4 separate regions of the Homo sapiens genome follow, and all the other regions are reported to be linked to region 1. Evidence: microRNA targets listed by miRTarBase, many of them from high-throughput screens and not tested one by one. Region 1 holds a microRNA gene; each other region holds the end of a gene's coding sequence.

Evidence for each region. Region 1 holds the annotated microRNA hsa-miR-2114-5p (UAGUCCCUUCCUUGAAGCGGUC, at 3,204-3,225, opposite strand). A microRNA usually pairs through its seed, bases 2 to 8, with sites in the 3' UTR of a target mRNA and lowers its output. Matches are read on the target gene's strand: a 7mer-m8 pairs with bases 2 to 8, a 7mer-A1 pairs with bases 2 to 7 and ends in A, and an 8mer does both.
Region 2: miRTarBase lists MRPS27 as a target of hsa-miR-2114-5p. Seed matches in the 3' UTR shown: 7mer-m8 at 4,471-4,477.
Region 3: the mRNA of LDLRAD4 is a reported target of hsa-miR-2114-5p. Seed matches in the 3' UTR shown: 7mer-m8 at 3,814-3,820.
Region 4: the mRNA of NOTO is a reported target of hsa-miR-2114-5p. Seed matches in the 3' UTR shown: 7mer-A1 at 2,031-2,037 and 7mer-A1 at 2,706-2,712.

What each region holds. Positions count from the first base shown.
Region 1 is chrX:150,224,122-150,231,240 of GRCh38, reverse strand. It overlaps MIR2114 (microRNA 2114), which reads right to left and starts at 3,237; the gene lies at 3,158-3,237. It also overlaps the pseudogene XRCC6P2. RefSeq lists enhancers at 4,802-5,387, 5,388-5,975.
Region 2 is chr5:72,215,010-72,222,128 of GRCh38, forward strand. It overlaps MRPS27 (mitochondrial ribosomal protein S27), which reads right to left. Exons shown (of 11, transcript NM_015084.3): 11 at 4,394-6,139. The coding sequence ends at 5,900. Among named protein-coding and RNA genes, the nearest start is that of MIR4803, 49 kb to the left of the region's middle.
Region 3 is chr18:13,644,719-13,651,837 of GRCh38, reverse strand. It overlaps LDLRAD4 (low density lipoprotein receptor class A domain containing 4), which reads right to left. Exons shown (of 7, transcript NM_001378100.1): 7 at 1-6,711. The coding sequence ends at 6,181. Among named protein-coding and RNA genes, the nearest start is that of MIR4526, 37 kb to the right of the region's middle. RefSeq lists enhancers at 1,779-2,278, 2,279-2,780.
Region 4 is chr2:73,209,573-73,216,691 of GRCh38, forward strand. It overlaps NOTO (notochord homeobox), which reads left to right. Exons shown (of 3, transcript NM_001134462.2): 3 at 1,199-2,941. The coding sequence ends at 1,357. SMYD5 (SMYD family member 5) reads left to right here and starts at 4,673. Exons shown (of 13, transcript NM_006062.3): 1 at 4,673-4,790. The coding sequence starts at 4,695. RefSeq lists a silencer at 3,137-3,206 and enhancers at 4,529-4,823, 4,611-4,850.

The DNA.
Region 1 (7,119 bases):
GGCCCAAGGTGGAGTATTCAGAAGAGGAGCTGAAGACCCACATTAGCAAGGGCACGCTGGGCAAGTTCACTGTGCCCATGTTGAAAGAGGCCTGCCGGGCTTACGGGCTGAAGAGTGGGCTGAAGAAGCAGGAGCTGCTGGAAGCCCTCACCAAGCACTTCCAGGATTGACCAGAGGCCATGCGTCCAGCTGCCCTTCCACAGTGAGGCCAGGCTGCCTGGCCTTGTCCTCAGCCAGTTAAAATGTGTTTCTCCTGAGCTAGGAAGAGTCTACCCGACATAAGTCGAGGGACTTTATGTTTTTGAGGCTTTCTGTTGCCATGGTGATGGTGTAGCCCTCCCACTTTGCTGTTCCTTACTTTACTACCTGAATAAAGAGCCCTAAGTTTGTACTAAAAAGAAAGAAAGAAAGAAAGAAAGAAAGAAAGAAAGAAAGAAAGAAAGAAAGTTCCCTTCTTAGTTTTCTAAGAGATTTTTGTTTGTTTTTTGGTGTTTTATTAAGGATGGCTGTTGAATGTTCTCAAATGCTTTTCTGCACCAATTCAAATGATTGTATGACTTCCTCCTTTTTCTTTGTTAATAAGATTAATCCAATTGGTTGATTTTCTAAATAGTTAACCACCCTCACATCTCACATGCCTACAATAAACCTTAATTAGTTGTTGAATTAGATTGTATTTCCCCAGAAGCTGATACTAGGTCAGGAATTGGAGTACAAATAATTTATTTGGGAGGTGAACCCTGAAAATACCAGAAGAACTATGAAGATGAAGTCCTCTCTGTCTGCACATACACACATGAATGGGACAATGAACATATATGAATATATATGACTGGACATACATATATATATATATATGCACATACATATTAATGGAAAGGGAAGGGAGATATGTATTTATATTCATGTATGTATATGTTATATGTATATATATAAATGTAACAATAAATATTGTATGTGTATATGTATTGGATTTGGTTTGCTAATATCTTAAGAGTTTGTGGAACTATGTTCATGAGAGGAATTGGTCTATAATGTTCATTTCTTGCAATATCCTTGTCAGGTTTTGGAATCAAGGTCATCTGGGACTCATAAAAAGGTTATGGGACACCCCAGCAGAGAAGATGGCTGTGGAAGGCCCTGGGGAATGATGGTGTGCTCAGAAGATCAGGAATGAGAAGAGCAGCACCTGTAGTGGAAGCTGCCAGCCTGGCTGTCTTGGGAAATAATGGCCAAGTTCTCCCTGTTCCCTGTAGATCCTGTCTCCACAGTGGCATGATGAGGGGTGGGAACATCAGGTTCAGAAAAGGTCTTTCTGCTCTCAGCTTCTCACAAGCTTAACTGAAGCCCCCCGCCGGGGTGATAGAAGATATGACTTCCCCTGAGTTTGGTAGAGGCAAGCATTTCCCTTTGAAAGCTTGTTGGTCATTGGTCATCTCCGTGGTCTCTTCTAAACCCCAAGAGTCATCCAGGGCCATGCACCCAGGGGCTTTTTCCACCTCTCCATTCAGAGCCTTTGATGCCCCTTACACACCTCTTATCAGCTGTTGAACAAACTGTGACCTGTCTCCAAGAATGCTGGCCAGCTGAGGCTGACAATGGGGCTTGGCCAACCAAAGTGATATGGATAGCAACTGGCAGAGGGCCAGGATGGCATAAATGTCAAAAGGTGCTTGCACTTGCTGCTGTGACTGCTAGCTGTGGTCTTAAGGTATCTTGCAGAGGAGGGGGTAAAGGATGGTCCCAGAGGCACCAAAAGGGGCAACAAGCACAGACATTTTTAACTGCCACTCAGAGAACAACAACTCTGTGCCAAGCCCTGTGCTGAGGGCTCTACACTCACAATCTTCTTCATATACACATGGGTCTCACTGAAACCATAACACAGCAGAGTGGGAAGGGATATTTTAACCAACTAAGGTGTTCACTTGCCAGTGCCTGGGATCCAAAGTCAGCATAGCCACTCTATACGCTCAATCATTGGGAGAGGGTAGGAGGAGCCAGTTGGCTTAGTGACACATTTAACTTGGAGTACATTCATCAAGACATGCCTGGAAAAGGCCACAGAGGAAAGGCTCCAGAGAGGAAGATAGCACTGGGTGACTGAACTGAGGGGACCACAGCTTCATAAGAAGGGCAACAAGAACCAGGCTCAGCACTTATTCTGGTGTTCACTCAACAGCATACAATGTCATCACATTCACTCTCTTACTGGAACCTCCTAGGGCGCCCAGGAAGTCAGCAGGGCAGGAGTCTTCTCCCCTCTGAACAAATGAGGAAAGTAAGGTTCAGAGAGGTGAGGTGACTTTACTTGCCAAAGACCTATTACTGGTATGGTAGGCTAAATAATGGCCCACAAAGATGTCCACATCCTAACCCCTGGAACCTGTGAATATGACTTTATATGGCAAAAGGGACTTTGTGTATGTAATTAAGTTAAGGATCTTGAAGTGAGAAGGTTGTCCTAGATTATCTGGGAAGGCTGTGAATGCAATCACAAGTGTCCTTATAAGAGGAAGGCAGAAGGAGATTTGGCACAGACAGAAGAAAAAGGGATGTGATGACAAGAGCTCCATGTGTATATCAAGGATTGTGAGTGTAAAGCCTTCAGCACAGGGCTTGGCGCAGAGTCATTCTCTGAGTAGCAGTTAAAGCAATCTGTGCTTGTCACCCCTTTGGTGCCTCTGGGACCTCCTCCGCAAGATACCTTAAGAAAGAGATTGAAACGATGTGCTTTGAAGATGGAGGAGGGGGTGATGAGCCAAGGAATACAGGTGGCCAACCTGAAAAAGGCAAAGTAATGGATTCTCCCCTCAGAGCCTCCAAAAGCATCCAGCCCTGTTGACACCTTGATTTTAGGCCAGTGAAACTGATTTGTTTTGGACCTCTGACCTCCAAAAGTATAATAGTAAATTTGCATTGTTTTAAGCCACTATGTTGGTGGTAATTTGTTATAACAGCAATGAGAAACTGATCCATCTGGTGAGTGGCAGAACTGGGACAGAAGCCAGTCATCTCATCACCCAGGCAAAGGCAGACGCCATCATCTGCTTCTTGGCAAAGTTTCCCAGGGCCTGGATAGATGTGGGAGTGGAGGATGGGAGGACTTCAATAGGAGGCAATGATGGTTCGGAAGCAGGAAGCTAGCTGCTGGAAGCCACCAGCTTGAAGTCCCTTGCTTGAGGCTCGTCATGTGATTATCCGACCGCTTCAAGGAAGGGACTAGGAGCATGGAGGCAGAGGCCTGTCTTTGGCCCCAGAAGCTGGGACGTTTGATCCATTGCTGACTGGGTGAGGGTCCTGCTGATTGAGATGGAGAGTCCTTAGAGGCAAGACTGGACCGATGACTTCTTGAGGTGCTTTTCAGCTCTCAGGTTCTGTCAGTCCCTCTTCATGGAATCCTAGGTGCCAAAAGCAGACCCAGGAAGCCTGTGGCCCTGATAACCCAAGGCAACCTCTGTCTCTCTAAATGTTCCTGTGGAACCGAGTAAGCATAATCCCAGAGGGCAGTTTGGGACAGCTCACACCCTTCCAGTGGCGGTGAAAATTGGTCATTCCCCTTGGAGAGAGGAGGCGCTCTTGGCAATTTTCCAGAGCTCTACCCTCCTTCCTTTGTGCCCAAACAGCTGTGGGCAGATCAGGCTGGGGGTAGAAAGGAATGAATTCTATTTTCTTCCCTCCCTGAGGTACTCCATGTGGTCACAGAAGGCTGCACAGGAAATATAACGGTTGACAGACGTGCGGTGTTTTGTGATGTGAAAATTAAAATCACCAGGAAATGTTCACGTTCTCTCTCTCCTTCTCTCCCCCCCTCCCCTATCTTCCTTCCTCTGAGCCTTTCTCTCTCTCTGTTCTCACTCTTCCTCTGTTGCCTTTTTCCCCCCAGTTCATTTTAAGTCCCTCAAACTTCCTACCTCCAAGAACAACTCTCTAGTTGAGGCTTGGACTTTACAACTTTCACAAATCACTTTGAATCCTTAAGGTGCCTACAGACCTCTCAGTTTGAGCAATTATGGGAGGGAGAACAAAGAATCAGGGTGGGCGAGCTTCCAGCCACCACTGCCATAAAGTTAAGTGACAACTGTTCACTCCCAAGCCTCTGAGTCTGGACAGGTTTGAAAAATTTGTTTTAATCTCAAAAATCTATTCCCAATGAGCAATTAGAAGCCATTTCCTTGAGCTCTTACTATATCCCAAACTTCGGTTTAGTTAAATTTTGTGAGGTTCAAATTTTGCACCTTGAGACTCTACTTTTCTCTAAATTTCACAATTTAGGGATAAGGGTCTGTTTGTATTCAGCACTGATTGGAATGAAAACATCATTGAGCTTGCCAAGCTGAGACCTGGAATACCACAGCATGAGGTTCATATGTTCTGAATGAGCAGGTTTCAGAAAGCTGAGCACTTAGATGGTGAGGCGTGTGACTTGTAAGATGTGCTTTCTGTAGGGACACAGGCCATCCCCACCGCTGCACCTTCAGCATCTGTAAATGGTACAAGGGCTAAAGTACTTGCACGCAGGCATTTGGATTTTCCCCTGTGTATTATTATTGGCGTTATCTAAGGCAATGTCCCTATCTTACTTCATAGGTCAAGAGTATCCCCAGGGCCACCCAGCAATGCCTAGGAATGAACTCCTAGAATGAAAAACACTTTGGGAGATTCTTCTATCAACCTTCCCTTGTTCTATAAATGTGGACACTCAGGCCTGAAAGAGGGGACAGGCCCTGCAACTTGAGATGGCTCAGCAGGACTGGGACTCAGGTCTAGCTCGTACTCTCCACCCCAGGCCTAGATACTTGTCCACTGTGACTACCTCCGGGAGCCAGGTGCCAGCCTGGGAGGAGCCATATCTGTTTTGGAGCAATTGCCCCGGGCATAGCAAAGAAGGGGGTTGAGTATGAGATAGTATAAGGATGGCATGTATCCTTTGGTAAACAACAAATCTTGGGGCTGGAAGGCTGGTCAAAAGTCAGTCTGGAGACTGGTTTTCCACAACAGAACGTGCTGCGAAAGAGTTGTGGGCAAAACTCGGTTTTGAAAATTGAATCTTTAACCCCCCTGGGTGCCATCTATTGCAATCTTATGAGAACTACTTTTGTGAAGCAAAGGGTCTTCTTGTAATGCAAATTTCCACTCCCTAATTGGCCCGGTGTGTAACTTCTATGCCTTCAATTGCTGAAGGGGGCCAAGCCCCTTTGACACCGGTTTTTGTTTTGGTTTAGCACAAAGCAGGTAGGAGGTAGGGTCAACTCGCACCTCCCTAATGCTGCCGCTGCTGCCTCCGGGCGGGAGAAGACCCACCTGGGCTCCAGGGCAGAGCTGGGCCAGCTTATCACCTCCCCTTCATCGCCCTGTGGAGGTCTGCTGCAGAGTAGTTAATCGGGAAGCTGGGAGTGCAGGTGGCACTCTGTGCCACCTGGAGCCATCTCCGAGAGAGTGCCCGCATCCTCCAAGGCTGGAGAGGAATACCAATTGCACGGTTACTGGGCCCCCTCAGGAGCCCACAAGAGGAAATTAAAAGGCATACACACGCCTGGAATAAAGGACCCTCTTCTTGCAGCTAATCACTGAAATTGGTCACTGGGTTGTCCCCTCCCCCCTTTGGTGAAAGACATGGTCTTTCTCTTGTTCTGTTCCATCACTGCGTTCTTAGAAAAGTGTGAGGAGGGGGGCTAAGCTTTGCACGGGCATCCTCCCATCCCCGCCCTCAAGGTCTGCCTTTCTCTCAGAGTCCTGGCTTTTCCCAGCATGGGGGGCATTTGTTTGTCCTGTCTGATGCAGGAGAAAGGTCAATCCCAGCCCCTAGGCTATGCAGGTGGGAAGAGTGGCCTGGCATCTCTTAAGACTGTCTCCTGCATGGCCCTTTGCAGGTTGTAAAATGCTTGCACTCCCCTCCCTGTATGGGCTTCACAACCTCATCAGGGCTCACAGCTGCTATTTTACCTTGAGGGCATGGTCTAAGGTGACAGACATGGTCCTCAGGATTTGAATCCAGGACTTTAGCTCCAAGGCTAGGATAAGCTCTTCCCACCCTCTGTGCTTTAGGGCCCACTGTGGCCCCAGTCCACTCGGCAATGGGAGAGCCTGTTTGCATGCCCTTAGCAAAGCCTGTGGAGCCCTGAGGGCAGGGGCAGGAAGATGGCCTTGGGGCTGCCAGGGAGATGCCTAGGAGGTTTTGGTTATTAATTAATTAATAACACTGTGTCCCAGCAGTCAGGCTGGGCTGGACCTATGGGAGATGCCCTCTAGATACCTGCTGAAAGCAAGCAGGAAAGAGCATGAGACTTACTGTCTCCTGCGTGGGAACAGGGGGCGGTGCTTAGTTTCCCCTGCTAGGCCAGTAAAAGGCTTGGGTCACCTGATGGCCAAGGCCCTGTGCCACAAGTTCTGGAGACCTGATACAAGCTGTGGTCTTGCTTCCCACTGTGGCCATAGGCACGTAGCTCCATGAGTGTTCTGAAGAGGCTCAGCTCAGGGAAAATGCAGGTGGCTGGGCCTGAGAATCTGGGGTTGACAAGAAAACCTAATATTCATACTGTAGTATATTGAATGGTGGCCCCACAAAGATATGTCTACCTGGCACCTGTGAATATGACCTTATTTGGCAAAAGGTCTTTGCAGATGTAATTAAGGATCTTGAGATACCATCCCAGATTATCCAAATAGGCACTAAATCCAATGACGTGTCATTATAAGAGAGTGGCAGGAGATTCAAGATACACAGGGAAGTAGGTAAGGGTGAAGATGGAGCCAGAGGTTGGAGTGATACGGCCACAAGCCAAAGGAACACCTGGATCCACCAGAAGCTGGAAGAAGCAAGGAAGGATTATCCCCTAGAGCCTTCGCAGGGAGCTTGGAACTGCTGACACCTTGATTTCTGATTTCTGGCCTCCAGAACTGTTGGAGAATAAATGAATAAATACATTTCTGCATCAGTGAATAAGTTGTCACTGTTTTAAGCCACGAAGTTTATGGTAATTTGTTACAGTAGGCACAGAAACCAATACAAAATAGCAACAATACCAAGGAGAGGAGGGGAAACAGGAAGGAGGAAGAGGAAGATGAAGGAAGAAGGATAAAGTCTTATTGACCATCCACCAAGTGCCATGCAGGCAC
Region 2 (7,119 bases), not on the chromosome of region 1:
GTTACAGCTTCATCACTTCCTAACTCCCTGCTTTGAGGCAGGTGTGATATACATATGTAGAAGAGAATTCTGATATGATACACCATGCTCACCCCCCTATTTTTTCCCCACAAACCTTCCTCCTGGTGTCAATTTTGGCTTACACTACACTTCGTAGAAATCCAAAGAGGCTTTCTTTGGCATTAAACTACCTCAGCTTAGGACATACGGCTTCTAGCATCTCAGAATTTCTGCTGGGAATTATACCTCAGTTGGAGGACTTTCCTTTTAACCTAATAAAAAATAATTCATTCAATAAATGTTTATAAGCCCCCTCCTCATGGTAATGCCTGTTCTGTGTGTTGGGCCACAACCATGAACAAGACACACAGAGTGCCTGTCTTCATGGAGTTTAAAGTCTAGGGCCAATCTCACCAATTAGTTCTAAATAATTAATTCAGAATCCATAAAATGCTTAAGGGGTTTAACACTCCAGGGGGTGTTGCAGACTTGCTGCAACAATGGCTCATAAAAAAAGCCTGGAGAAAGGGATAGCCTGAACTGAGAACCACTGAAATACCCGAATTGACCTGGCAGATCCAGGAGAAAAGGATTACAAGTCTCAGGGTAGCCTCCTGGAGTGGATACATATATCACAGGAAGCCAGAAGACCCAGCAGAGAACTATGTTCCCTCGAGGGCCAGGTGGCACGCCGCTCATCGAGGCCATTGGGAATGCACTGGGGAAGGGCACTGGTGAGCAGGCACCTGTGTCACCAGGTTTGGTAGCAGACTAGAACTCACAATAGAAAAGGAGGTTATGCTTGGTGTTGTTGGCAATAGGGATGATGGGTGTTGAAAATCTCCCCCCTCAAGCAATAGAGGCTAGGCGGTGGTGCTTCCTCCCTCCTTTCCTTTTGCAGATGTAGGACCTCCACCTGAAGGCTTTCCTCACCCAATCCCAATTCCACCTCCTTTCATTTTTCACAGGCTTTATCCCCCCAAAACTGCTTTCACTGTTACCTCTGACTCTGATGCTGATCTGCTTCCTGGGGGGCCTAAGTGACACAATGAGCTTCTAGAAATGTTTTTCATACCTAATTCTAAGTTCTCTGTTCCACCACAGCAGCTGCTTTTCCTTTCCTCAGTGGTTAAAATAAGAGAGTTTCCCAAAGCTCATCAGATACCTGCAGCAAAAAGAAAAAAGTAGAATGCTGCAGTATATTTTCAGGGAAGATGCACAAAAGTAAAGACAACAAAGAATGGCAAAACTAATTGTTTTCAGTGTGAAAAAAGGTTTTAATCAACTTTTTTGGTCTCGCTCTGTTGCCCAGGCTGGAGTGCATTGGCTCAATCTTGGCTCACTGCAACCTCTGCCTCCCAGGTTCAATCGATTCTCCTGCCTCAGCCTCCTGAATAGCTGGGATTACAGGTGCCAACCACCACACCCAGCTAATTTTTGTATTTTTTAGTAGAGACAGAGTTTTGCTATGTTAGCCGGGCTGGTCTCGAGCTCCTGACCTCAAGTGATCCTCTGGCCCGGCCTCCCAAAGTACTGGGATTACAGGTGTGAGCCACTGTGGTATAATCAACTTATTTTCAAGGCCTCTGACTACTTCTTGTAGAATCTAAACCAATCTTCTCACACACCTACCTGATTCCACAGCCAACGAGAAGGTCGGAAAACAGGATGCAAGGCTGGGTGCCAAGGCAACACAGCACTGAGGGGAGGATAATACCTTATCATTTTTCTTTCTTTTCTTCTTTCCACCGCCTTGCTTTTTTTTCCTTTTTATGGCCAAGGTAAGTATGGGATGTGGGCCAAAACAAGTTTAATCTGAATTGTTCATTTTAGCTTAATTTAAAGTATTTTCTCATGAACACATCACACAAGCCTCTGTGGAAAGAGGACCCCAGGGCAGCTTGAGGCACTCATATGTGACTAATTAATGCACAAAGCAGGCAATTAATTCCCTTCATTAGAGTTTTTCCCATCACTGGGCTTAAAGTGATCTTCCTGTGAACTCCCACATACATTAACTGTTTGTCTAACGACACCTTTCAGCTGTGTATTGACGGGTGTGGATGTGCCAGCCTCACTAGAATCTAAGTTATTTGAGGGTAAAATCTATAGTTTATTCATCCTTGTAAACTCCATAGCACTTGTATAGTGCCTTGTACACAGTATACACCGAACACTTGAGAGCTTGCGAAAGCAGTGCTGGAACAGACAGTAAGTCTGCTGCAGACAGCAAGCTTATAAGGGGTGGTCAGTGGTACCAAATGGAGCAGAGCATTTAAAAGGAAAAAAAAAAAAAAAGATCACTGTAGTTGATGACCATGTTGTGCAGCAGAGTGGTAAAGCTATAAGCCAAATTCTCAGCCTCTAATGAATGAACAATGAGCCAGTAAGTGTAGATACCCTTTCAAGAAGTTTGGAGACATAAGGAAGGAGACATAGCATGACAGCTTGACTGATGGCAGGGTAAAGGATTTTTTGCTGTTAAAAAGTGTTGAATAAGGTCTTGAATAAGACTGTAGACTTAGAAGAAGAAATCAACAGAGATGCTATAAGACGGAAAGGGAATGCTTGAATGTGTAGAACAGGTGGGCAGGTATGGGCCAAGGTCACAAATGAAGAGCCTAAGCTTTGAAAGGAGGGAGGGGATACCTATTATTTGAAAGTAGGAAGGATGATGGAGAGAACATCTGCTTGTAGTTCTGAGGGCAGGGCTTCGAGCTAACGCAGAACAGAAAAGCTATGGAAGCAAAAATGAGAGTCAATTAAAGGAAGGACTATTGAGTTGAAGAGAACAGCCATAATTTTGTAGAAGAATCTAATCAGCCTAATATTATGACTTTATATATCTACACTTAGTAAGTCAGAACCAAAGAGAAAATGAATGGTGGTGTTATCAGTTTCCTAGGGCTGCAGTAACAAAGTACCAAAAATGGTGTGGCTTAAAATAACAGTTCTGAAGGCTAGAACTCAGAAATCAAGGTGTCTGCAGGGCCAAGCTTTCTCTGACGGCTCTAGGGGAGAAGCGTCCTTACCCCTTCTAACTTCTGGTGTTTGCTGGCAAGCCTTGGTGTTCCTGGGCCTGTACGGTCACATGCTCATCTTCCCTCTGTGAGTCTGTGTGTGCAAATTTCCCCTTTTAAAAAAACACCAAATTGGATCAGGCTGACCCTGATGATCTCACTCTATATTTGATTACCTCAGTACAAACTTATTTCCAACTAAGGTCAGATTCTAAGGGACTGGGGATTAGGGATACAACTTACCTTTTTTAGGGAACACAATTCTACCCATAATAGATGGGTGCAAGGATGTAGGTCGAAGGCTGGCAAGTGAGCCTAGATAAAGGGAGTGAGAGAAAATGAAGATGCTAATGAGAACATGGGGATGGCTGACCATGGGGCCCACACTGGAAGAGAAGCAGATTCTGGAGACCAAGAGTTTGGGTGATGGGGTAAAGGCTAAGGATTAGCAGGCAGGAAATTACAGAGCAAGTTGGTTCAGCAGCAGTCATGGTACGAGACGAGCCTGGGAGAGTGGGGACTTCAGGATCTAAGATCTCGGATTCGTGATGAGGCTGGAGGTTTGGCTGTGACTATGGCAGGTCAGCTGCAGAAGGTAATTTGTTACTGGGAGATGATCCAGTTGAGGTAACCTCCAGAGGCCAGGGCACCAAGAGCAGTTTCTCCATCCACATGGAAGAAATATGGAAGATGACATCAGGGAAAGGGACAAAGGACAACTGTATTGGGAAGAGCCAATTGTGAAGGAAGGCAGGAGAGTATCCTATAGCTCAGGAGATAAGGACATGGGGAAAGGGCAGAATATTTGGAGGGGAAAGACTCCAAGAGTCCTGAGAAATGGGGCACAAGTGTGGAAGGAATCCTGAGGAGGAGGGAACATGGAAATTCCTGTGGGACCACAGTACAGTGGCAGAAGTGGTCTCTTTTGGTGAAGAAGAGAAGTAAAGTACATTGGGGCTGGAGAGGGAGGAAAAATGAAGGCAAAACGATGAGCCAAAGCCTTAACCAGATACTTCATGTTGTGACAGTCATTAATTTACTGGGCAAAAGTTGCCCTTTTGTTTGTGTTGAATGTTCCTCTTAATGTAATGAGAGAGTGGCTGAAAAACTCCTGTTGTTGGTAAACCAAAATGTTGGAACTGACTTTTGGTCACGGCCCTCTACCTAAGTAAGATTCAGCAGCTTTGCTAGTCTAAAGGGCCCTGTGTTGGATCCTGACTACTGCGGTTCTATATGGAGGCCACAGGCAGGGAGAGGAGCAGCAGGAGAGCTGCTTTGTTTCATAAAATGGGGACACTGGTACCTCCCTCATAGGGCTGCTTGGGTTTTCAGCCTACAGTTAAGTCCTTAATAAATATTAGTGGTGGCAGTTATCATTATTACAATAAATCCCATAGTTTAATGGGGGAGGGTTTAAAGTACACTCCTCAAAATCATAGTAACAATAATGAGTCCCTCTCCCTCCTCCCTTTCCCCAAAGATAAAGAGTACACTAACATGATCCCGGAACATTTATTTCCAGAGGCTTTTGATAGAAGAGCACAATCTTGAATAAAATTACACCACTGTACTTAAGGGCAACACTACATAGTAAGCAAAATCTGCTCTGAACCCTTTCACAGAAGAGACACTTCAGAAAGGAATTTTACATCTCCTGACAGTTTTACAACATTCATACCTCTGATGCACTTCAAGCCCCAACCCATCTCTCATTTTCTAACTTCTTTAACAGAAATGTGTGTTCACAAGTTGTGTGTGCATGCACATGTGCCTCTGTGTGTACACAAAAGGCTCATTTTACCTACTTGATAAATGAGCTGAGACGATGTTTTGGGAAAAAAAAAATTGGAAAAAAAATGTTACCCCAACACGATGGAGAAGCCAATCCAAAAAAGCTTCATGCTAGAGCTAGCTTTCTCCTCAGAAACTTACATCCTAAAAACATCCCTATGGGTGCCTAAAAATGGAAATCCAGTGAGTTCATGGCCTTGAGTTCACTCCTGTCCTGAATTTCTCCCAGTGCAGGTCCAGAAGGGCGAGATGTGGCAGAAAGGAGAATGTGGGAATGTGTGAGTATCCCACAGCCAGCTCACAGTGCAGCTTGCACTCAGAAAGGAGACTCAGGGACACAAGGTCTCAGGATGCACAGTTCACCTTGGCCTCATGTACCTGGGCTGGGGAGAGGGAGACCATTCAAAAGCCTGTGCTTGGCCGGGTGTGGTGGCTCACGCCTATCATCCCAGCACTTTGGGAGGCTGAGGCGGGCAGATCACTTGAGGTCAGGAGGTTGAGACCAGCCTGACCAACATGGTGAAACCCCATCTCTACTAAAAATGCAAAAATTAGAAAGGTGTGGTGGTATGCACCTGTAATCCCACCTACTAAAGGAGGCCGAGGCAGGAGAATTGCTTGAACCTGGGAGTCGGAGGTTGCAGTGAGCCAAGATTGCGCCACTGCACTCCAGCCTGGGTGACAGAATGAGACTCTGTCTCAAAAAACAAAAACAACAAAAAACAAAAGCCTGTGCTTCAACCTGACTCTTCAGCCTTGGTTTCTCCCAGTACTGTCACTGGGTCTTAGGAACTTTAATGCTCATAACTAATCCCTGTGCCCCAGGAACTCCATTATGAGCCTCAAGAGTCCTCCTTAAGGTATTCAGCTGGTGACTTCAGTCTGACCACTAGCCACCTGCATAGTTCCATAGCCCTTCTTGGCATCTCGATGGGCAGTCATGGTGCCTTGCCATGTAGGGCACATAGCCTGCTTTAAGAAAAGAAGATGGGTAGAGGAAGCTGAGGCTGTTGTCCAGGCCACTGCTGAGTCCTGGCACGGGGTTGAGTGAAGTTCTTGTGAGACAGGTGGGGCCCTGGGGGACCCTATTAGGCAGATGCCTTTGCTGCTTTCTGAGCCTGGTACTCCTGCTTCGCTTGCTCCCTCTGTTGCTGTTCTCTCTGGATCAACTGTACAAGGTCTAGATGCCACTGCTGCAGATTCTGCTCATAGGTGGCGATGTCCTCTGCTTCACAGGTGGAGAGTTTTTCCTTGACAAGCTGGGTGGTCAGACTTAAAAGACCTTCTGACTCAATTTTGCCCAGAGCTTGAAGCTTAGAATGTAAGGCCTGTTGGAAACAAATGGGAAAAATGAGAAGAAAGGTAGAGAAGTGAGAGAAAGATACAAAGAGGAAAAACTAGCCCTGAGTGACTGACTTTAGATTTGAACAAAAGTTTGCTGACTCGTAGTTTAGTCCTCATTCTAGTGGCCCAGAATGAAGTCACCTGCAAAATAACCACACATTTTGCTGGTAGAAAAAAACCATTTTGTTGGGAAATGGTCATGCTGCCTTTCATTCAGGTGCTGTTAGCTGTGGTTATTTTTTTCAGCTCAGCAATTTTGCTAAGATGCACCACATGTGATTTCTCCCCTTTCACTCAAAAACAGTAAATGGAACTCCATATGCTGTGTCTCCCTGTGTAATTTCTTGTTTTAAACCACAAAGACAGCCAGCCTCTAACAAATCTATGTTTCCACCCTGACCTAACCAAACCAAGCAGCAAACACCAAAAATAAGAATTCTAATATGCAAACAAAATGGCAGAGGCATCTGATAACTGGAGCAAGCCCAACCATACATGTGCCTTCGGAATAACTGAAACAAGTATTTGCCTTTCTGGCATTCCTCTCAACAGACGGAAATCAGTTCAAGGAATAGCTCCCCTGAGTGCCTGCACCGTTAGAAGCGTCTGCCTGCTGTGCTCCACTGCATTGGGTCTTAGGAACTCTAAGACTGCAGGTCAGTCTTTATGTATTGCCTGCTTACAGCTCCATCTGAAATGGCACCTTGGTTTGGTTGGTGTTGTGCTCCTGGAGAAGTAAGTATTAAAAACATTAATCTATTTAAGTACTTTAAGATGTACTCTCTCATTAGAGAGAGGGCCACTTACGGGGCCAGCTGTAGCTTATACCACACATCCCCATGTTCCACAAACAAATGCCACTCATTGGCACAGGAAAGGAGGCTTGCTTAACAGGGTTGGGGGTGGGCAGGGTGCCTAGGCTCCAGGAGGGGCCAGAGGCCTAGTGTGAGAGTCAATCATATAA
Region 3 (7,119 bases), not on the chromosome of region 1:
AAGTCAGAACATACACCATGGAGCAAATAAAAACTTTGGAATTTATTAGACTCTACTCTGGTGGCAGAATAAGCTGATAATATGGGTCAGATGGGCAAAATTCCACGAACTGCTCTTATGGACAACACTCGAAAGGATGCCCACACCCAAGATTCAACCGTGGTTTTAGTGAACATGGTGTTATAAACTTTTCTTGTTCTTTTGTTTTAAAATTAGGGTATTTGAAGATAAATGCAGAGGTCACAATCAGACACTAAAAACTAAGCCGGAAGAGAGATGTAACAATATACAATCCAAAACGTAATTTCTAACTGATGGCAAAACCGAGTTTGCTTTTTGGGTCCGTATTATGATGGGACATGAATGGGAATGGATGAGAGGTCCTTCACTTGGCTGGCTGACAGCCAAGTCTCTTCTAGTGCTAACCCATAACTAAACACATTTTCTAAGAACAGGGTCTTCTTGTAAGTGTATTTGTTTTTCCTGAGGTATTCTTTCCCTACAATCTCTACTGTTACTTCATTGGCTCCACAGCTTCAGTTTGTAAAAGAAAAAGGCACAGAGAGACTTGGACACAGACGGTCACAGATGCCTCTGGAGCTGAACAAAGTCTTCTGCTGCAGGCTGATTTACTTATTCCTCTGACACAGTTTCTGCAACAACAAAAATGTGCACTTTTCACTGTTGCCTGACACCTTCGTGATGCTACAGCAGGAGATAGATGCAGGAGATTATAAAGCAAGTTGAAAAACAACATTTTTCTGACTCAAATATAACTAACACTGGTCCAGCTGAGCATTACTAAAATGATTAAAATAAGAAGCGTCTAGTGGCAACCAAAAAGCTGTGGGATTTTTTAAAAAGTATTTTCTTTAAAGTGTTTTCACAGCAAAGATGCAACTTTCCATTGCTATATATACGCTGGTCATAAACTGTTGCTTGTTTGTTCACACTTCTTTCTCTTGTGTTATAATATTGATATTTAATAGGAAAATAAACTACATAGACTTTAATCTGTATGCATCCATTTGCAAATTTCCTTACAAAAGAGGACAAAGCACATAGGCATTCACAAATTCTATGCCATTTCTGTTAAAATTGGTATCATCTATACATTATATTACAGTATTAACAACTTTTTGTTCTACCCATTGGGTAGGATATGTGCATAATATATTCAACTTATATACAGCACCTTACAAATAAAAACATAAGAAAAGACAGACAACTGAAAAAAGCACCATTTTAAGTGAGGCACAACAAAGGTGGGAGCATCAAGTGCAGGAGGGGGCGGCTTGGTTCCTATATCTGCTGAACTCAGAACATGAGGCACCTTAGTTGCTGAAAAACTGACATGCAGATCTCTGACATGATAGGGGTATATCTACATATATATAATGTGCACGGATAGTGTATATATAATCTCTATAGCTCTAACCCTCTCCCGCATTACACAAAAACAAGGACACGCAGAGGGAAGAAAGAAAAGGATGAAGGAAGACATTGCTTTCTTAGCAAGACATTCCTACACTCAGACAGCAGCTTCCTAATGCATCCAGTTCGAGAAGCAGCAGCAGCAGCAGCAGCAGCAAATGACTGTCTGACCCTGGCAGTAACATAAACTTGAACTCTGCAAAGGACACAGCGTGCCGGGTAATAAAGAATGCTGAAATATTGGTTCCTAAAAAATGTAGACCACTGCAAGGCTAAGAGTGCTTTCCATTGTCTGTTCACATCTCTGTGATCTGTAGCGGTGCTGGCAGCTGGCGGTGGTGGAAATGGCGAACGGTAAGCCACGCAGCTGCTGAGAACTAGCATTTAGGATCTGGGCTGGAAGCAACATTTTTAAATTTGTGACTTTCCTCGCACCAAGAAGGGGAAGTTCTCCCTTTGCCCACCTGTCATTCAATTGTCCTTTCACCTCAGTAGGCCAAGCACGCGGCATTCTTGGTCAGTGTGAGCAGGAGAGCAAAGGGCAGGCTGTGGAGCATGTTCGTGGCATGAAGGCTTGGCTCCAAGCACTGGCTTTAATCACTTAAGCAAGCAACACAAAAGTTAACAGAAACCAAGTATCTTTCCCAGTTTTTTCTTTCATACACTGCCGAGCTTTGGAAAATTTTTAAAAAATGAATGGTACACAAAGTTAATGTTGCCATTCTAAGTAGCAAAATTCAATAAACAAGCAGTGCAGCAAGCCCCCGAGATGGGGGCGCATCCAGTCATGGCTGCATGGGGGGCCGGGCTCCCTGCGCCCACAGCAGAATGTCTCTGAGCCTGCCAGTGACCAACGCCATGAGCCGGTCCTTTGAGGGAGGGCTTCGGACTGGGTGCCGGGTGTCTCTCTACTAGCAATCAGTATCTGGCCTGAGGACATATTTGAAGTGCTCTGCACCAGAGCCTTCCTAAAAAGAAGAGCCGCTGGATGGAAGATAGAGGATGGCCCCTGTCAGAGAAGGGAACTGTTGGTTCAGAGAGGAAGGCAGGGATTTGGATGGATTCTTCTAGGTCAGAGAAGATTTCTAAAAGTGCTTCCTTTTGAGCCTTTCTCATTCTTATGAAGATGAAATAAAGGTGAAAGAGATCAAACGGAGATACGCAGAAGTTCAAGAAGTCCTCGCCTGGGTACAAAATTCCTCTGCTGGTGTCAGGAGGCCTCCCCCATTTACTGTTGGCCCCTATTTCCTGCCTCATAAGTTTGAGCCAAAATTAGTGAATGGAAATGCAGTCCTCACGATAAATCTTTTAAAAATTCGCTTCTGCTCTCTTGGGATTTCTTGTGGCTTGGGTGTGTGTCCATGTGTTTATGTGGTGGGGAGGGTGAGGACATGCTTGTCAAGCTTCTGTATTAGTAAATTTTGGACACTAAAAATAGAAGAACTATTGAAATACATAATTTGCTTCATGAAATCTCTTTTCCATTAAGGATTGCGTCAGTATTTAAAGAGAATGCTAGAGTTTCTGAAAAAGCAAACGTATGCTGGAAGATTGTGTTCTTATAGATGGGATTCAAGATGCCTTGGGTCTCCTACACCGGGAACAAGGGACAAAAGTCAGCGGTATGCCCAGGAGTGTTCATTCCCACCAAATGTTCTTCCTAACAATGCAATCCACACTTTGCTGGAATAATCTAAGATTATAAACCTATCATTGATTGCCTAAATCACTCGTTACTAAACTGGACCCATGGGTTCTATAAGCTAAAAAAAGGGTTCTTGAAAGAACAATAGGCCCCACTGTGTAAGTTGTATCTTCCCAGTCGCTACTCTTTCAACGCCACACTAGCCATGAGGCGACACGGTATGAACAGGTCAGCCACAACCTTCAAAAGAGCTACTGATCTAAATCACCTTTTCCTTCTGCTGAAGGGAAATTGACCATCAATTCATGTTATGACCTTGGCTTTTAAACTAATTCATTACAGAGCCCCAGCCTCGAAGACCTTTCAAAGTCATGGTTTGATATGTATGAGTCTTTAAATAACTATTTAACAAAGGCAGTTCTCTAGGGTGGTTGAATGGGAGGAGCCTCTTTCTTGAAAGATGATTAAAGGTATCTGAATTATGTAATTATCTCGCCAATACTGTGGACATGTGCAACACATTCATATACTCACAGTTACTAAGGAATTCACAAGTCTCTGCTCTGAGCCCCTTCTTGAGGCAGGTAGAGAAGTAAGGACTGTGAAGCCATTTGAGAGCTAGAGCTGTGGGGTGCATCTCCTGCTTCACCAAAACTGCAGGTGAGAACTGAAATGATGGAATCACTCACCTCGCCTCCGCATCTGTGGGCACACCTGACCAAGAATCCACTGCAAGTCCCTGCCAGCAGGGCCCGATGGGAACACGGGCTCCTCATCTTTGCCTGACAGAGGAAGAGAGGCTAATCTGGAGAGCCAGTGAACCTTCAGGGTGTCTCCAGGGTTGGGGAGGGTCCTTCTGGCCCCAAGCCAATCTCTGCCCTGAGAGCTGGTGTCTCTCCAGCAGAGGCCTTCCAACTGTCACTGGAACAAGACTGAATCCAGTCTCAGAACCTCCACTGTGACTCTCAACTGTATATACTTCCACACAGGTTGTAAGCATGAGCTGACAACTGGTGCCTGTGTTTTTCCTCTCTCCTTTTAAGAGTTGGACTAGTTCTGTGGATGTTACTGTGTGCAAAGGATGAATGTAATGGAAATTCCAATCCTCAAAACAAACAAACAAAAACCAGTGACCTATCTACAGAGGTAAGAAGCAGAAGGGAACAGACTAGGATCAGACAACTCTTGGGGTTTGGAACAGTCTCTCCAGTTACAGCACAGAGCCACCGCACCGACGGATCACCTTCGAGACCCACAGACAGACACAAACACACACACGCGGATTTGGCTTTAAGGCTGCATAGGTGGGAGTCATGGAATCATCATTCCAGCTCATCTTGTTATGTGAAGAGGCCACAGAGGCCCACCCTCCACATGGCAGAGTGTACTGCAGATAAGCCCTTCTCCACGCGCAGTGTCTGCTAAACGTGTTGGCTGCTGCTCTTATAAAAGCCAGTGCTTACATCTGCAGAAGAAAGTTATTTTTTTCATTGTATATAAGAATGAATATTTGTAAATATCAGGAATATTAAAACTAACAATATTTAAAATTAGTTTTCTAGTTGCATTTTAACTGCATGTTGTGCTTTTTACCCGGTGCTCTTCAGTCACTTGCCCCCTCCACTGTTCTCTGACTGTCCAGTTCTTGCCTTCAGTACAAAAGCTGGCCTGGGGAAGGGTTTGGTAGAATCCTGCGGGAATTTGGGTAGGTTTTGAGCACTGCATTCCTTTAAGAATGCTATGCTAATACTAGTGACATACAATAACCCACAATGGCTTATTACCACGATCAGCAACATGGCATTCTTCCGTCATTATTTCTAGGGGCTTCCAAAGCATAAGAAACCACCACCCACACCACTCCCACACGAAGTTCTGTGTAGGCTGGATGTGGGGTGGCTGCTGGGAGCCTCCTGTGAACTGAGCAGCCCTGCAGAACTGAACTAAGCTGTCGAGGAAAGGGGGAGAGGCAATGGGAATATACTGAGGAGTCACATATTTCAACAGTATGCAGAATAACCACCTTGCATTTTAAACAATTTATTGCATAAAATAAGGTATGTATTTGAATATATTTCATGCTATAGTGAAAAAAATCTAAATTACTGAAGAAATTGCACTGCTGGAGGATGAGGGCAGCACTGCATGATACTGGATCCATAAATGCATGTGTTCATTTTCTCATAAACTATGCAGCCTAAGAGTAGCAGAGTAACTCAAAATAACAAGTCAGAAATGCTGGAACTTAATCTTCCCTATCTTATCTTCCATCCAAAAGTCTCCAAAAGCTTCAGCGATGCACTGCTATTTGATGCAAACTCCTGCAACAATAATGACTTTTTTGATTTACGTAAGTTGGTAAAATGTTAGGCTACGTCCCCAAATATCTTTTCTTGGATGCTTCTGGGGACCACTCCAGGATATTCCTTGGGCCTGATTACAATCCACAGGTGAAAAGACAACATACAGAACTTCACGTAAAACAGTTCCCTTGTAAATATTTTCAACATTAAGATAGTGCAACTTTTAAAACACATCATCACAACACAAAGGAGCTCCTTGCACTCATCTAACTTCTCCACTTTATACCTTGGCACACAACACAGGAATTTTGATTCATATTTTTAAAACAAAATAAAAGTTCCACACCTTAGGAGAAAAAGCGAACTGGCTGGTTCTTCCCCACAATAATATATAATAATGCTTCCTTCTTTATTCAGTTAATTATAAAACATGCCATTCTGGCCTCATTTATCTGCAAAGTCTCCTTTCACAATTAAATACATCAAATACCTCTGTGGGTTTTATTTCATGGTATCTTCAAAGCATCCCGTTCTCTGTTTTCCCCTGCCCACACCCCCATCCCAACCCCTGTCCCCAAATAAACACTGTTTGCGGTCAGACCAGATGGAAGTTTGTATCATTTCAGTCTAGTTTGCATGCAATTCCCCTAAAAGGAATCAGAAACAAAGACCGTGTTTGCTCATTTGGTTTTACTTATTTGTACCATGTGAAACTGAACAACACTGTGCGCAGGAGGGGCCCAGCGGCCGCTTCCCTTCTTGGTTTCTTTCTCCAGCTGAAGTGCACGTTGGAAGGAATCAGACCAGGTTCCCAGGCTTCCTATCTTTGCCTTTGATGGGTACTATTGTGCTCTCTGCATTGTTCTGCTGAAACTGCAGTCTGCTGCCCCTGTGTGCGTTGCTGCGCTGGTGATGGAGGAAAGAGGCGCCTGGGTGGTGGCCCATCACCTCGCTGTATGTGGGGGGTGGCCCCTCCATCCTCCCGTTACTGCTGCAGGTGCTTGCACTGATGCCCGAGTTGCTGCTGGGTGGGCATGGACCCCCGCTATACATAGCAATGTCTATTAAATCACTGTCAAATATGGTTCGGTTGGGTGGGGCCCTCACGGACTCTCGGTTGAGTTCCATCTGCTGTTCAGGGTCCCGGAGCTGCAGGGTGCAGGGCCCCTGGTAAGGAGGTGGCTCTTCACCGTCGGACAGGGAGATGGTGGGAGGAAGATCAATCTCGTGCTGCACATAGGGGTAGGTGGGCTGGAAGCGGCTGAAGCGATCCCTCTGGATGAAGGACGGCGCTGTGAACCTGTCCCTGGACCGCGGGGCATGCATGATCTGGAAGGAAAAGAGGAGAGGCTTGAAGACAGTTTGAGCGCAATGATGACCATAAATGTGTCAGAATCAAGGAAAGTTACGCTTGGTGTGTGTTCCTACCAGTTTGAACACCATCTCCCAGGAAAAAAAAAAAGAAAACAGGAAAATCCAATTCCAGAAAAAAAAGTGTACTTTTCTGATTCCTTATGACAGACCACTCACCTTGCCAAATCCCAGCGCATCCAGGAGGGCTGAGCAATGGAGAGCTGTGGGTAATGGAAAGCTTGGGCTCCTGGGAGTTTCTGTGCGTGCTACGTGTGCATTTTCCCCTTGGAAACAGAACACACTAGGAACTCCAAGAGTCACAGGGCGAAGAGCACTGCGGCCTGCACTTGGATCTGGTCACCAGTGACATCGTCCAGTCCTCGG
Region 4 (7,119 bases), not on the chromosome of region 1:
AGTTTTCCTCCCAGCTCTGCCTCCTTGGCAGGCTACTCTTCCCTTGGGGACCTCGAAATCTCTTCCCAGCTGGTCTCATCTATTCCCGTGGCTTAAAATACCATCTATAAGCCAATGACTCCCAAATTTGTATCCTCAGCACAACCATCTCATCTGACTTATATCTCTAACTACCTTCTTGGTGATTCCACTTAGATGTCTCATGGGCACATATCTCAAACCCAAGTCTAAACCTCAATTCCTGACTTTTTTCTTGCCCAAATATGTTCCTTTCCCATATATGACCCCACCGTCCACCTGGTTACTCAAAAACCCAATCATCCTAGATTCCTCCTTCTCCTCCGCTTCCAACCATCATTGAGCCTTGTCATCTCTACCTCCAAAATACAGCTGGAGTGGCTTCACTTCTCTCTGTCACCCCTAATGTACGCCCCAGCTCTCCCGGGGCCGCTGCAGTAGCCTCCCTCCTGTCTTCCTGCTTCTGCTGCCATCCATGCTTCACACAGCAGCTAGGTGCACAGTGCACTTCAGATGTAAATAGGATTATGTGGGCCCACGTAAAAGCCTCATGGGTGACATTCCTTATCTATGGCCTTCCAGGTCCTGGGTGATCTGGCACCCGCTGACCTCTCCCATTTCCCTCCCTTGACTTTCTCCTCTCACTGTCATCCGTGCTCTCCTCCTTCCTGGTCCTCAAACACTCCAAGCTTGGTTCCATTTCAGAGCCTTCCTACAGGTTGTTCCCTGCCCTGCAGACCTGCTCTTCTCTGTCCCCATCAGGTGGGCCTCTCTCTCTTTGAGCCTCAGCTTTAATGCTGGCTCCTTAGGGAGGCCTCCTCTGCCCAAACCCCTGTTTGTACCCCCTTTTGTGTTTACATAGCTCTTTGTTTGTTTACATGTTTCTTGCCAGTGTTTCTTCACTAGCTCATGAGCTCCACGAGGGCAGGCAGCTTGCCTCTGTTGCTCACCACTGTATCAGCATCACCTAGGATGGTGCTTAGCACATACTGGAAACTCAGTAAATACTCAGATGAATGAATGGTGTCTGGAATTGTAGAAAGGGGTGTTTTGGAGGAGGTACCTCCCTGAGAAGGAAGAGCAAATATTGGCCAGGCAGAGAGGGGTGTTCACTCCAGGAATTAGGAAGCAGTGGGACCTGATGGTCACATTCTGATCTCTGCCCACTCTCCAATTATAGGTGAGAGTCTGGTTCCAGAACCGCAGGGTCAAGTATCAGAAGCAGCAAAAGCTGAGGGCAGCAGTTACATCTGCCGAGGCTGCCTCCCTGGATGAGCCTTCCAGCAGCTCCATCGCCAGTATCCAGAGTGATGATGCCGAGTCAGGAGTGGACGGCTGAAGACTGGGACAGAGGCCCTAGCCAGGCTGCCTGGACTAGTTCCTCCTGGGGGTACCCACTGGAGCTCCCTGCCTCACACCTCAACGAAAAGCCTCCTCAACCAGAAGAATCTGAGCTGTCAAGCAGGGACCCCCTTTTCTATACTGATTCCTGGAAACTGGAATAATGTAATGATTGGAGGCACAGACTCTGGCCTTCAGCTATGTCCTTGGCCAACCTATGGAACTTCCGAGCCTTTTTTCTTTATCTGTATAATGGGTGCATTCATAACTTAGATCACCCAGGGGTGAGAAGATGTCTGTAAAGCAATAATGTGCCATGCACAGTGCAAAGTGTGTGGTTACTGTTAAGGCTTGTAGGCCCCTGAGTAGAGAAGACCAACTGGAAAAAAAAAAGTTTTTTTCTTCTGCTGTCACCCCACAACAATCAACACAGAACACTTCTGTGACCAAACGTATAGGGGTGTACCCCACATTCCAACCTCCAGTTCAGCAAATTCTGACATGATCTACCTGCAGGTAGTGTCTGACCCCACAGATTCAGGGCTCATTCCACATGGCAGCCCCTCCTTTCTTTTTTTTTTGAGACAGACTGCAGTGGCGCGATCTTGGCTCACCGCCACCTCCGCCTCCCGGGTTCAAGCGATTCTCCTGCCTCAGCCTCCCGAGCAGCTGGGACTATAGGCGCATGCCACCATGCCTGGCTAATTTTTATATTTTTAGTAGAGACGGGGTTTCATCATATGGTCAGGCTGGTCTTGAACTGCTGACCTTGTGATCCACCCACCTCGGCCTCCCAAAGTGCTGGGATTACATGTGTGAGCCACCACCCGGCCCAACCCTGCCCTTTTTGTTTTTTATGGAGTCTTAAGGTCTACCAGTCATCAGTCAACTCATTAGCATATGAAAAGACATCACTTCAGAGATTCTAGGGATTTTAGGAGTTCTATGCCAGGAAATCGAGATGAAGACCAAATATATATTTCATAATATCACAGCTCCCCTCACCTGGGGGAGTAATACCTGTACCAGCAATTAATATTTTCCTGGCCTGGCTGTGGAGAAGGAACCTCTTTGAATAAGCATCTGGGCATAGAAGACTCTTCACCATCAGAAGGAGTTGAGAGCAAAGAAGAGAAGGTAGACTGTTTAGCCCACTTCACAAAGTTTCCCAACGTTTTCTTGTTTTGTCTGAACTGTTACCATTCTCAGAAGAAGCTCAGGCCCAGCAGCAAAGACAAGGACTCGCTCTGTCACCCAGACTGGAGTGCAGTGGTGCAATCATAGCTCACGGCAGCCTCAACCTCCTGGGCTCTAGTGATCCTCCCACCTTAGCCTCCTAAGCAGCTGGGACTACAGGCGCGTGACACCACGCCTGGCTAATTTTTAACATTTTTTGTAGAGACAACGTCCACTTGTTGCCCAGGCTGGTCTTGAATTCCAGGCTTCAAGTGGTTCTCCTGCCTTGGCCTCCCAAAGCCCCATCTTTTTATAGAATAATTTGTGTATGCCAAGGCTGGCATTTTGTCATAAACTCTGCTGTGTTTTCACAGGACAGTTATAATTTCCCCCTTTCATGACTCTGACTCATGGCTCCTTTTTCTTCTCAAGAATGTGCTCGATTTCTCTGAAAGAAGCCTGCTGCCAGGATTTGCAGAGCTGATTTCTGTAGCACAGACCATTCAGATTCTAGAATGGCTCTTGGGGACTGAGCTGAGGGATGGAAGGAAGCCTGCCCTGCCACCTGGTGGTGAGTGAGGGCACGGCCCCCAGCTGCTCTCGGGTAGGTTTGCCCCCAAGTACGTGGACTATTCGCTCCCTGACACCGGGCTGCAGGCTTGAGGGGACCCAGGGTCGGTTTCAAGAGCCTCTTCTCTGGCCCTGCCAACTATCTATCTCCCCCAAGTCCGTGGACTATTCGCTCCTTGACACCAGGTTGCAAGCTTGAGGAGAGGCAGGGTCAGTTTCAAGAACCTTTCTCTGTCCCTGCCAACTATCTATCTATCTATAATTATTTGATAGATAATTGTGGCTTGATCACGGCTCATTGCAGTCTAGACCTCCCCAGGTTCAGGTGATCCTCCCACGCATCACCACGCCCGGCAAATTTTTCTATTTTTTGGAGAGACAAGGTCTCACTACGTTGCCCAGTCTGTTCTTGAGCCCGGGAGCTGGAGGCTGCCGTGAGCCGAGATCGCCCCATGCCAGTATGGGCGACAAAGCGAGACCCTGTCTCAAACAAAACTCACAAAATCAGGGGACAAGGAAACAAAACAAGGCTTGATAGTCAGGCCTAGCTGTGGGGACAAATGCCATAGGTCTGTGGTTTGCAGCTTCTTGGGGTCCTGAGAGAACAGGCCCCTCCCCCTTTTCACGACAGTGTGTGCATATGCACACTCACTTCTGTATCCAGTTTCAGAGGTTCTCAGATCTGAGGTCCCCTATGGACTCCTCCGCTACCCCCGGTTGCAAGGTCCCTAAGCCATTGAAGAATCTGACAGAGGCACAAGTCCACCCTGACCTTTGGCAGGACTGTTCTGCTGCCAGAGGGATTACCGAGAAAGGAAATCTTGTCCTGGACTCTTCAAGTGGGGTGAGTGAGCTCCGGGGTATAAGCTAGTCCTTCCCTTCAGGCTGAGAGCTAGACAGGATAGGAGTAAGTTGGCCTTCTGCTGTCCCACTCTAGGGCTGGGTCCAAAGAGCGCTTTACTCAGTGAAGACAGGCCACTGTGTGGACAGAGACAACATACATAGAAACATGCATCGGAGGCCGGGCGAGGTGGCTCACGCCTGTAATCCCAACACTTTAGGAGGTCGAGGCGGGCGGATCACTTGAGGTCAGGAGTTCGAGACCAGCCTGGCCAACATGGTGAAACCCCTAAAAATACAAAAATTAGCTGGGCTTAGTGGCGCACGCCTGTACGCCCAGCTACTCGGGAGGCTGAGGCAGGAGAATGAATCACTTGAACCTGGGAGGCAGAGGTTGCACTGAGCCGAGATCGCGCCACTGCACACCAGCCTGGGCGACAGAGTGAGACTATCTCAAAAAAAAAAAACCACAACAAAACATGCAACGGACTCAAAGATACACACATCAAAACTGTACGCGCACACAGACTCTGATACAGAGGTACAGACACAAAAAGGCACCGATGTAAAAGCACAAAGGCAGGCCCAGTTACACTCCCGTCAACAAACCACGGAACCTAAATTCAGACTTGGTGGAGCCCAAAACCTCGCAGCCTCAGGGGCACTCTCGCCGGGGGCGGGACCAGAAGGGGGTGTGGCCTCTCAGGTCGAGGCGGGGTTAAGGGTCATAAGGCGGAGGCGCGCCCAAGATGGCGGCCTCCATGTGCGACGTGTTCTCCTTCTGCGTGGGCGTGGCGGGCCGCGCGCGGGTCTCCGTGGAAGTCCGTTTCGTGAGCAGCGCCAAGGTGAGGTCGGGGCGGGTCCTGCCGGGAGCCTCTCCCCAGTCCGGCCATGGAGACAGCCCGGCCGGACTCCATGCCCGGAGCCCAGAGGCTTCTGTGCCGCTCGGACGCTACGGCCCTGCCCCTGCTCGCGGCCCGGGGGCTCCCAGTCTGTCCCTGCGCGCAGGCTCGTGGCGCGGTCACGCGATAGACCCGGGCCTCCGGAGTCTCCGTGCGCATTTCCTCCCAGCGGAATTCGGCCAGCCCGCGGGAGGCCCTTCTGTGGCTGCTCGGGGCGGGGCTAGGGGGCTTTGCTGCTGTATCCCTGGAACGGTGGGCGGGGATGTGCCGGGCAGAGAGAACTGAGGTGTAAAAGAGGGAGTCCTCACGAACTTCATGTGTGAGATTTGGGTGAGGGGATGAGGAGAGAGGCCAAGATCCTTCACGAGGGTCCTTGGAGTGCTGAGGAATTTGGACCAGAGTCCAAAGGCCGTGGGGGCATTGGGAGAGTTTTTAGCAGGAAGGTGACGTGATTTTGTCGTTTTTATTGTGTTCCAAAAGTTCATTGTAGAAAAAAATACAAAATGCATGTAAGGAAAGAAAATACAAAAATCACCCATACTTCTATACTTGTGCAAAGATGAGTACGTTAAAATTACATTTTTAGAAACTGCTTTTTGATGCAGCAGTGAATCTTTCAATATCAAGCCTATTTCTACATATTAAGTTTTAAGAGCTGAGTAGTAGCTTCTTCCGTGAGAGGGTCACAGTTCACTCAACCAACCCCTTATTAATGGACCCTTTATTGTTGTATGGTATTTTTCATCCCCAGAGTCAAAAGTCTTAGAGCTCATTTTCTGTGCAAACATCCTCTTGTTTTGTCCAGCAGTATTTTTTTCCTAGTTATCTTTGCCTATTGATATGTGTAAAATTATATTTGTTCTCATTTACGTTTCTTTGGTTACTAGTGAGGTTGAATAATTTATCCTGTGTAGTGGCTGTGTGTATGGTTGGTTCTTGCCCAAGACGTAAGACCTCTAGTTGTCTGTTGTCTGCTCTCAGCGTCATCATATTGATCTAGTTTTCCAGCTCAACCTTCCGTGCCCCCTTTCTGCTCTAGAGGTATCTGGAGCAGTTTGCTCCTTCCCTGGTAAATCAGCTTCCCTACATCCCTGGTCTCCTTACCTGTTCCTATCTCCATCTCCATAGTCTCTAGTGCTCCTGGGTGGCCACAGTTTGAAGGCCTCTCAGTTCCATCATTCTTGGTTTGCAGTGATATTCTTCACCTTTTTCTTCATTAGCCCCCAGTCTCTCAGCCCCTTCCTTTCTTCATTTCTTCCCTCTCGCTTCTTCACTTCAGCCACTCTCCTTGCACAGTTTTCCTGTCCCAGGCTTCTATCAAGGCCCTAGCTGATTGCCCTCTCCTTGCCTACATCTGATCTGCTGCTGGAGAAAATAACATACCTGCCTGGACTTGGTAACAGCATGGATTATCCTGGGCTTTTTGCTTCTCTATTCAAATGAGATTGGTTTGTGATTTTTTTCTCTGTGTTATTTTCCTCAAGTTGCCACATGAGGGTTATACTTGTTTTTTTTTGGTAAAACAGAAATGCTTTCTGTCATTACATTGTTTAAATAGCATGAGCATTATTTATTCTTTAAAGGTTTGAGAGAATTGGGTCATGAAACTATATAGACCAGGGGCCTCAAGTGGGAGTAGTTTTTGACTACTGTTTATTGCTTCTGTGGATAGGAATGACTTTTCAAAAATTTATCAACTATTATGCCAGAGACATGACCAGTCAGAACAGAAACCTCACCAGGTCCAGTGGAAGCCAGCTGGATTACCATACTGGTGCACTAGCCGGATAGCAGCATGGCTTATTGTGGGCTTTCTTCTTTTAATCAAGATTTTAAAATCTACTACATAGTCTGCCCGGGCATGGTGGCTCATTCCTTTAATTCCAGCGCTTTCGGAGGCCAAGGTGGGCTGATCACTTGAGATCAGGAGTTCAAGACCAGTCTGGCCAACATGGTGAAACCCTGTCTCTACTAAAAATACAAAAATTAGGCCTGGCGTGGTGGCTCACACCTGTAATCCCAGCACTTTGGGAGGCCGAGAGGGGCGGATCACTTGAACTTGATGTCAGGAGTTCGAGACCAGCCTGACCAACATGGTGAAACCCCATCTGTACTAAAAATACAAAAATTAGTCGGGCGTGGTGGTGCACACCTGTAATCCCAGCTACCTGAGGGCCAGGCACGAGAATTGCTTGAACCCAGGAGGCAGAAGTTGCAGTGAGCTGAGGTCGTGCTACTGCACTCCAGCCTGGGCGACAGAGGGAGACTCCAT